2 linked regions of the Homo sapiens genome follow. The protein of the gene in region 2 interacts with the protein of the main gene of each other region in a pairwise test. Each region holds a gene or a part of one and is shown on either strand. Other genes may lie near its edges.

Region 1 (4,030 bases), on a different chromosome or scaffold from region 2:
TTGTAAGTCAGATTTTTCTTCAGTCCCAGATTTTCGCGCCTGTCCCAGTATACATAGCCACAACACAGCAGCTGAGAGATGCCGCTGGGTGCTACTCACATTTTAAACCTCTCCACACTAGCAGGATTTCCTCATCCTGAGTTCCTCAAAGTAAGGAATGGCTAAGAAGGAGGAAATGGGATGGCTTGCTGATTGATGGATGATCTTTCAGTTTCAGTGTGAAAACATTTAATATCATGAGTCAATGAAGCTGTTTATAGCATGCCTGGGCAGTGCCAAATTTCATATATGGAAATAAAATTACTACATTCGTCTCAAAAATTCAGAGACTATAATCCATAAGCAAAATCTGCTTAAAGCCTATTTTATTCTTAGAAAAGCTTCACTAAGTAGCTCATGTTTATAAGATGCCTGTTTTTCAATGTCATCCACATAAATTCATGATTTTTGTGTTTTTGAGAAGAAATTTAAAGTGTATATATGTCTGGGTTGAGTAACATCTATTTTCAGGGAGAAGTTTATTAATTGGGTTACATTTACACTTTGCCAGTTATAAACATTTACTTTACAAGCTGAATTGTTTGGTTTATTGCAGCCTGTTTTGTCTCAGAGTTAAGAGTAAGAATAAAGGTGTACTCTGTTTAAGTAAAGACAGATGCTCACATCAGGGGGAACACACACATCTTATTCTTTGTACTAGAGACTTGTCACATTTTGAAAATTCTAACCAGAGCATTGGGTTTTAGTCTTAGGAATGATTTTTCTTCACTAGATAGCTGTAAAAGAGAGCCCTAGAAATGAATTTGCTTATAGCTCTTCCTTGTTTAAAGTATTTAGATATTGTGTGTATGTACATTATATAAGACCAGTGTGTATAAGTATAAATGTGGCCCATAATATATGCTATGGTCATTGCTTAATTTCTTTTCGTATAGAATACAAATGTGATATATAAACATATGTATATATGGCATATCCTATTCAAATATATTTTATATATTTACATACAAAATGTTGGACTCCTATATACCAGATAGTATACACAGAGAATAGCTTCTATTTAAATATTCAAGCAATATATATTACATAATATATGTTATAAACACATTGTATACATATAAATACATAACATGAGCTTACTACATATCATATTGCATATGATATATAATACAGCTAATGTGATATATAATATATATTATGCACATAGGCTATAAAGACACACATACACACAAGATGAATAGTAGGCTGATGTGAAATTTATTTTACTGATGAGGCAAAATAATGTTAGTGTTGCTACACCAATCAGTGTAGAGAAGGGGCTATAGAATCCCTCTGTTGGGCTCCATCTGTCTATATTTTGGTTCTTGAGTAATAAAGTAGCCTTGGTGAAATGCAGGGTTTCCTTGACAATAACTGTGAACCTGTTTCGGTTGTGAGCTTCTGTATATCCATCTGGTCAAGACTGCCCAGCTGTGACTTTCTGAGAGTTTAGTCCAAATGTAGATACTAGGTATTTCTCCCCAGGGTCTATGTTTAGTTCAGTGTCCTGATGTTGCCTCTTGCTGCCCAACCTTTACAGGGTCTGTCACTCCCTCATTCCCTGGGCACGACCGGGTAGACAGACCACCCAGGGGATATCTGGGAATCCTGGGTCAAAGACAAAGCCCCTTTGTATTCCTCTGACTGAGTTCTGCTTTCCTGGACTTGTGCCCCCAAGTCCTGTTCCTGTCTTACTTTATGGTTAAAAATAGAACAATAAAACTTGTTTTGTTCCATTCCCCTAAACCTATTTATTTCCACCTACTCTCACCCTAATATGATTGGTGGAGCATAAGAATAAAAGGGCAAGAACGAATTACAAGCCTAAATTACATAATCTCCTTGTAAATTAGTCCCATAATGACCATGGACCATTACAAAAAACGATATTCGAGAGACAAACTTTGGAAATACTGTAAAATAAATGATCTCTTTTAAAAAAATAGATGTACACAAAAATGTGAACAACAAAACCCTCATAAATCAGTTGTTTTCTCTAGAACATGCTGAACCTATTACTGATTTATATCTAAGCAAAGTCTTTCCATAGCATTCTAATATACTTCTACTCCATCAGGCAAAATTGTCATATTGTTGCAAATAATGGATTTCTACAATAATGTGTTAGGCTGAACCACACAAAATTACCATTTTTGTAGCTCAAAAATGACCAGATAATGGTACCAAGTTTGTAGGCCAAAAATGGTTGGATATTTGCAATTTCATATGGTTTAAATTTTATTATTATCTGACTGATTTTTCCCTCATTTTCTCATGACTTTTGAAATGTATCAGAATACTCATCAGGAAAGCAAATTCTTTCAGGTTTGCTTAAGTTTAGAGAAAAAATAAGAATTTCAATGTTTCAGTTGGAACTAAATGTTTTGCATGAGAATTTTTTTTCCTTCCCTTTTTATGAGCTCCATATACTGCATTATATTTCAAGTGGCATCATATGAGAGCAAATTCTTGGAGAATGGAACCCAATCTTCTGGTTTCTGCTACATATGAATAATGTTAAAATGCACAGCTAAAAGAAGCCAAACTTCCCTGCTATTATTCTTTTCCTAGCACTAATCCGCAAATTAGAAATAATCCACTAATTCTTTCTTCCTTTCACGTCCTTGAATCTGAGTGGCCTGGTTGGATAATTCAAAAGGAAGAGAACACCCTGGATCTGACATCTGACCTCAAAATCCCAAACATTTGAAAAAGGGCTTAAAGAGTATTTTTTATCTCATAAATCTCTGGGGCTCTTGTATCTTGATAAATGCAAAGCAACCTTTATAAACTAGATTGCATGTAGAAACTAATATCCGAACTCTTTCACTACGACTTCAATTCTCCTTTTTAGCTGTACAGGATGTACATGAAGCAACAAACCTTCCAGATGCAGAAGGGAGAAAACTTTCTTTTGGTTCCCTTCTACATCATCTAACATTCTATCCCTTTCCTGATTTGTATCTGATCAGCAAAGCTGTTGAAACATTAAGCCTGTAAGGAGAGCTTGCACACAGAAAACCTATGCTAATTTTAAAAATCATACCCAACTGGAGAATAATGGTGTAAATCTTCATCCTTTAAAGGAAATTCCATCACAGATTAAAATAATTAGCATCATATATTCACAAGTAGCAATTCAAGTAACTCACTACTTGATATCAATATATTTGGAAAGGGTTATTATTTTATGCACGATAAGGGTATAGACCAAATAAACTCTTCTCCAAATTAGAGTAACTAAAAAATGTCGATGAACATTTATAACGCTGTAGACCTTTTAGGATTTCAGCTCTAAATAAACTGATATGACTCATCTGGACAGAGGTTTTGGCAGAAGTGGGATTGTCTAGTATGCACAACACTGATTAAAAACATTCTAAATCATGATGTATCTATGCTTACATCATTGCCAAAATGATTCATCTGTGTAGGATATATTCTTATTGCCAGAACTGTCACATATCATCTTGGCTAGAAACACACAGTCACATCCCATTATGGTGAACTCTTAAGAGTTTATCCAAATTCTTTCCTCTTCTGGAATTTTGTCAGGTTAATACTGCTTGACACATGTGATCTTAAAATTTTCCATTCTAAATCTAGTGTCATTTTGGCATTTGGCTGGATTTGGCCTATGTGACCAGAATCACACTGACAATGTTCAGTTTGTTGAATTTTAAATCTATAATGTTTATCACAGTATAGACCTATTGATAGCCAAGGAAATGTCCATGTTTGAGACTTTTTCTAAGATACTTTACCTTTTAAATGAGGCTATATACTTTTTGATTTGATATTGTATTTATATAACATACTAAATCAAGTTTTGCTTAAATCTGCTTAGGTTAAGCATAGCCATTTTAAGTTATACACAGGAAAATTTAAACACTGGACAGTTTACTGTAGTGCCAAAACTCTTAGCACTGCATTTCTTCTTGGTCATTTGAAATATTTACTGGCATTTTAGGACTGGTCATCCAAAAACCCC
Region 2 (3,500 bases):
CCCAAACATGCACACAGCAGCCTTCAAATGTCTCTGAATTCTCTCAAACACACGCTTCTACAACCCATCACATACCTAACACATACCCATCACTCCCAATACACACACTGTTTTGAAAACACATTCTTACACAAGCTAACATATACAGCCTCTAAACACGAGATGGATAGCACACACATATGACACAATTTCAACCCAAATACACCACCTCAATCAAGCACACATACACAAGGCTAACATACACAATCTGTAACACATAGATATGATGACTGCAACACACACAATCTCAAGACACACACACGCTCCAGCCCTACACATATGCATATGATCTCTGAACACACAATCCCTGTTGCAGTCTCTGCCACGCATTATCATGCATGCATGGATACAGTTTCCTCCCTCATGTGACCCCTCTTCCCTCACCATCCCCACACAACTGACTGAGCAGAAAGCTTTGATAATTTGAGTGGGGGACAAATGCCAGTCCCAGACGTCCCAGAGGAGAGTTTGTCCTTGGCCAATGAGATGAATGGATGGACGCCTTCTGTCAAGTGGGAATTGGCTTCTCACCAAAGGCTTGGGGCTTTGGCCAGGAAGCGTCCTCCTGGGGACCGTGGGGCCCTGGAAGCGCATGGACAGGACGGGGTGGGGAGAGGGGTGGATAGGAATGGGGGCAGCTTGGCCACACCAATGGAGGTGTTCCCCATGGCATAGACCATCGCTACCCGATGGCTCCAAGTGTTTTCTGGGGGCCTGGCAGCCCCTTGACTGAGCAAGCTGGGCCCAGCCTGGCAGTGGGGGCCCAGGACCTAAGTGGGGTGGGGGTGAGGAACAAGGGGCGTCCCTACCTGGGGTTCCTCCACAAATGAGCTAAAGTCCACAAAGGATCCATTTGAAGGGACCAGCTTGGCAGGGGCCATGTCTCTCCAGGTGGGGGCTGGGGAAGGGGGTGCCCCTGGGCTGGGTGTCACCAAGGAGATGGAAGAAGAAGAGCCCCAGCCTCCCACCCAGATCCCAGCCTGGCCAGAGCCAGGGCCTCTCAGCCTGGGCCTTCCCGGGACAGGCTTCCCCTGACTCCCTTCCTCAGAGCCAGGCCACTCAGTGCCCCTGCCCTGACCTGGGGGCCCACTGAGGGTTAGAGGCCAAAGGTCAGCATGCTGGGCAGGGCTGGAATGTGTCATTACTTTGGCTGGCTGGGGACAGTGGTCCTCCTGGCAGTGGGGAGCAGGGAGGAATGTATGGGGGTCACCACACTAGCACGACCTTAGGCTTCCTGAGGGGCCCCCCTGACCCCTGCTGGGGAAAGACTGTCCTCCCTTTTTCAAGCTACTTGGGAGTGGGGTGCAGGTGGATACCCTGGGATGAAGGGAGGTGTGAGGGAGAGCTGAGGGGGAGAAGCCCCTGGCCAGGGAAGAGGGGCAGAGGCCAACTGAGGTTTTCCCCTTCAGAATTGAGACTTAACCTAATAAAAAGAAAAGAAAGAACCAAAAAGAAGTAGTAACAGGTGGAGTAGGCTGGGGCAGGAGGCCTGGTTACTTCTTGAACATGTCCTGCAGCGGCCCGGGCAGGTATTTGAGCACCGTGTCCAGGATGCTCTCCTCTTCCTCCTCCTCCTCGTCCCCGCAGCCCGCAGGGATGGCCTTCTTGGGCCGGGTCAGGCTCCCCTCGCAGGGCTGCTCCAGGGCTGCTTTCTCCTCTGCTTCCTTCTCCTCCTTCTTCTTCAGCCCATACTGGGGAGGGGGAGGGCAGAGACGCGCATGAAGCGGGGTGGGCAAGGAGACAGCAGGAGTCTCATGATCATGCAGCACTGGCTGAGGTGGCCAGGAGTGCCTCCCAAGCCTCAGTCCTGTCATTAGTAAAGTGGGGATAAGGGTGTCTTCCCTGTAGGATGGTGCCTGGTCCTCAGTGGGAGAGACCATACGTGGGGTTTCCTTTAAAATTAACACCTGCCCATCAGAACTTCCTGCTGTGTTGAAACCCCCAAAGATCTGAACACATGGCGTTTGCCCATATATTTTGAGCCAAATTTTGGTGACGAATCTGACTTGAACCAATGGAAGACTACTTCTAGCCTTTATTTATTGCACGCACTAACAGACATGCACTGGACTGTCTGGAGTAGGGTGGCAGCCCCAGACCCGCTGGGAGTGACAGCTGACAGCACAAAGTGCTTAGGACACTGTGGTATTTTTCGAACATTCCCAAATTCAGAACTGCACTCATTTTTGGTCCCAAAGATCTGCAGTACGAAATGGTGGACCGTAGGGTCCACCCTCTTGGAGTACCTACTACGCGCATTCTCTTATTTAATCCCCAAAAGGATCCCTTGAGGGAGGTGACCTTGTGATACCCGTTTTGCTGATGAGAAGAGTGAGGCTCAGAACTAGGGCGAAGGTGAGAGCTGGGATCCAGGGGAGCCCCAGCAGGGGCTTTAGCTGGACCGGTTTTACCCGCTTGTGGCCCTCCCCAGGACGGGCGGGCGGGCGGAGCTGACCTTATCTCGGATCTGCTGCCGGACCTTCTCCCGCTCCGCCTCCATGCGCGCGTGCTTGGCCTTACGCTCCTCCTCCTGCTGCCGCAGCGCCTCCTGCCGCTCCTCCTCCTTTTTCTGCGCGTCGGGGTCCTTCTCCTCCTCTCCCCCCAGCATCTTCCCCATGTCCTTTGTGGCCCCTACGAGGAAGGGGTGGGAAGGAGAGGGCGGGGTCAGCTAGGGGTCAGGGCTGGGGAGAGAGGGGCCGGGTGGGCCGAGGCCACCTCCCACAAGGGTGGGACCGGCTGAGGACACGCGGAGGGGCGCTGGACCTCACCTCCAAGGGCCTGCTTCATGACGAAGTCCATGCCGCCGGCTCTGGTTAGCGTGCCTTAGCCCACGGCAGAATTTGCATGCAGCGCTCCTGGCTGGCCTGGCTTGGGAAGATGTGACAACCTGCAGAAGAGAATTGGGAGTCAGATGGGAGAGGCCTCTGCACAGGCAGGGCGGGGGAGCTAGGCAGACAGCAGCCTCACCCTGGTTCAGACACCAGGCACCCATCGCTCTGAGGTCAAGACCCAATGCCCTGCTGGAGGAGAAAGGAGATGGAAGAGAGCGATTTACTGGGCAGACACGTAGGTGCTGCCAAATAGCTTTTTGAAAGCGGTTTGGTCCCTATTTTAAAGCCTTCATCTTGACCCTATTGTTCAGATTTGATTGAAGCCAGGAGCATTGGAAAGAGCCTGGAACTTGGAGTCAGGCAGATCTGGTTTCCAACGCCACCGTCATTTCCTTATTTGCCATGGGACCTTCAGCAAGGCCCTAACCTGCTCGAGTCCCCAGTTTCCTCCTCTCTAAGAGAGAAATGGCAATGCCACCTTTCCCCGGCTCCGGCGGAGATTGGAGGGGGCCCAGCCTGGGCCACTGGATCAGCCCATCAAAAGACCAGCCGGTGTTACTGCCCCAGCCAATCGGAGGCAGCTGAGCAAATGAGAACAGCCAGCTTGGATAAACAGATCCTGACTTTTGA

Evidence for each region.
Region 1: the proteins of CPLX2 (region 2) and PTCHD1 interact in a two-hybrid assay, tested with the Homo sapiens proteins (one study listed by BioGRID and IntAct).

The regions. Positions count from the first base shown.
Region 1 is NC_000023.11:23,383,033-23,387,062, reverse strand, and holds part of PTCHD1 (patched domain-containing protein 1), read right to left. Parts: intron 1-4,030. UniProt on the Homo sapiens protein: Required for the development and function of the thalamic reticular nucleus (TRN), a part of the thalamus that is critical for thalamocortical transmission, generation of sleep rhythms, sensorimotor processing and attention. Can bind cholesterol in vitro.
Region 2 is NC_000005.10:175,878,078-175,881,577, reverse strand, and holds part of CPLX2 (complexin-2), read right to left. Parts: intron 2,927-3,500; 5' UTR 2,839-2,926; coding exon 2,808-2,838; intron 2,671-2,807; coding exon 2,495-2,670; intron 1,731-2,494; coding exon 1,533-1,730; 3' UTR 1-1,532. UniProt on the Homo sapiens protein: Negatively regulates the formation of synaptic vesicle clustering at active zone to the presynaptic membrane in postmitotic neurons.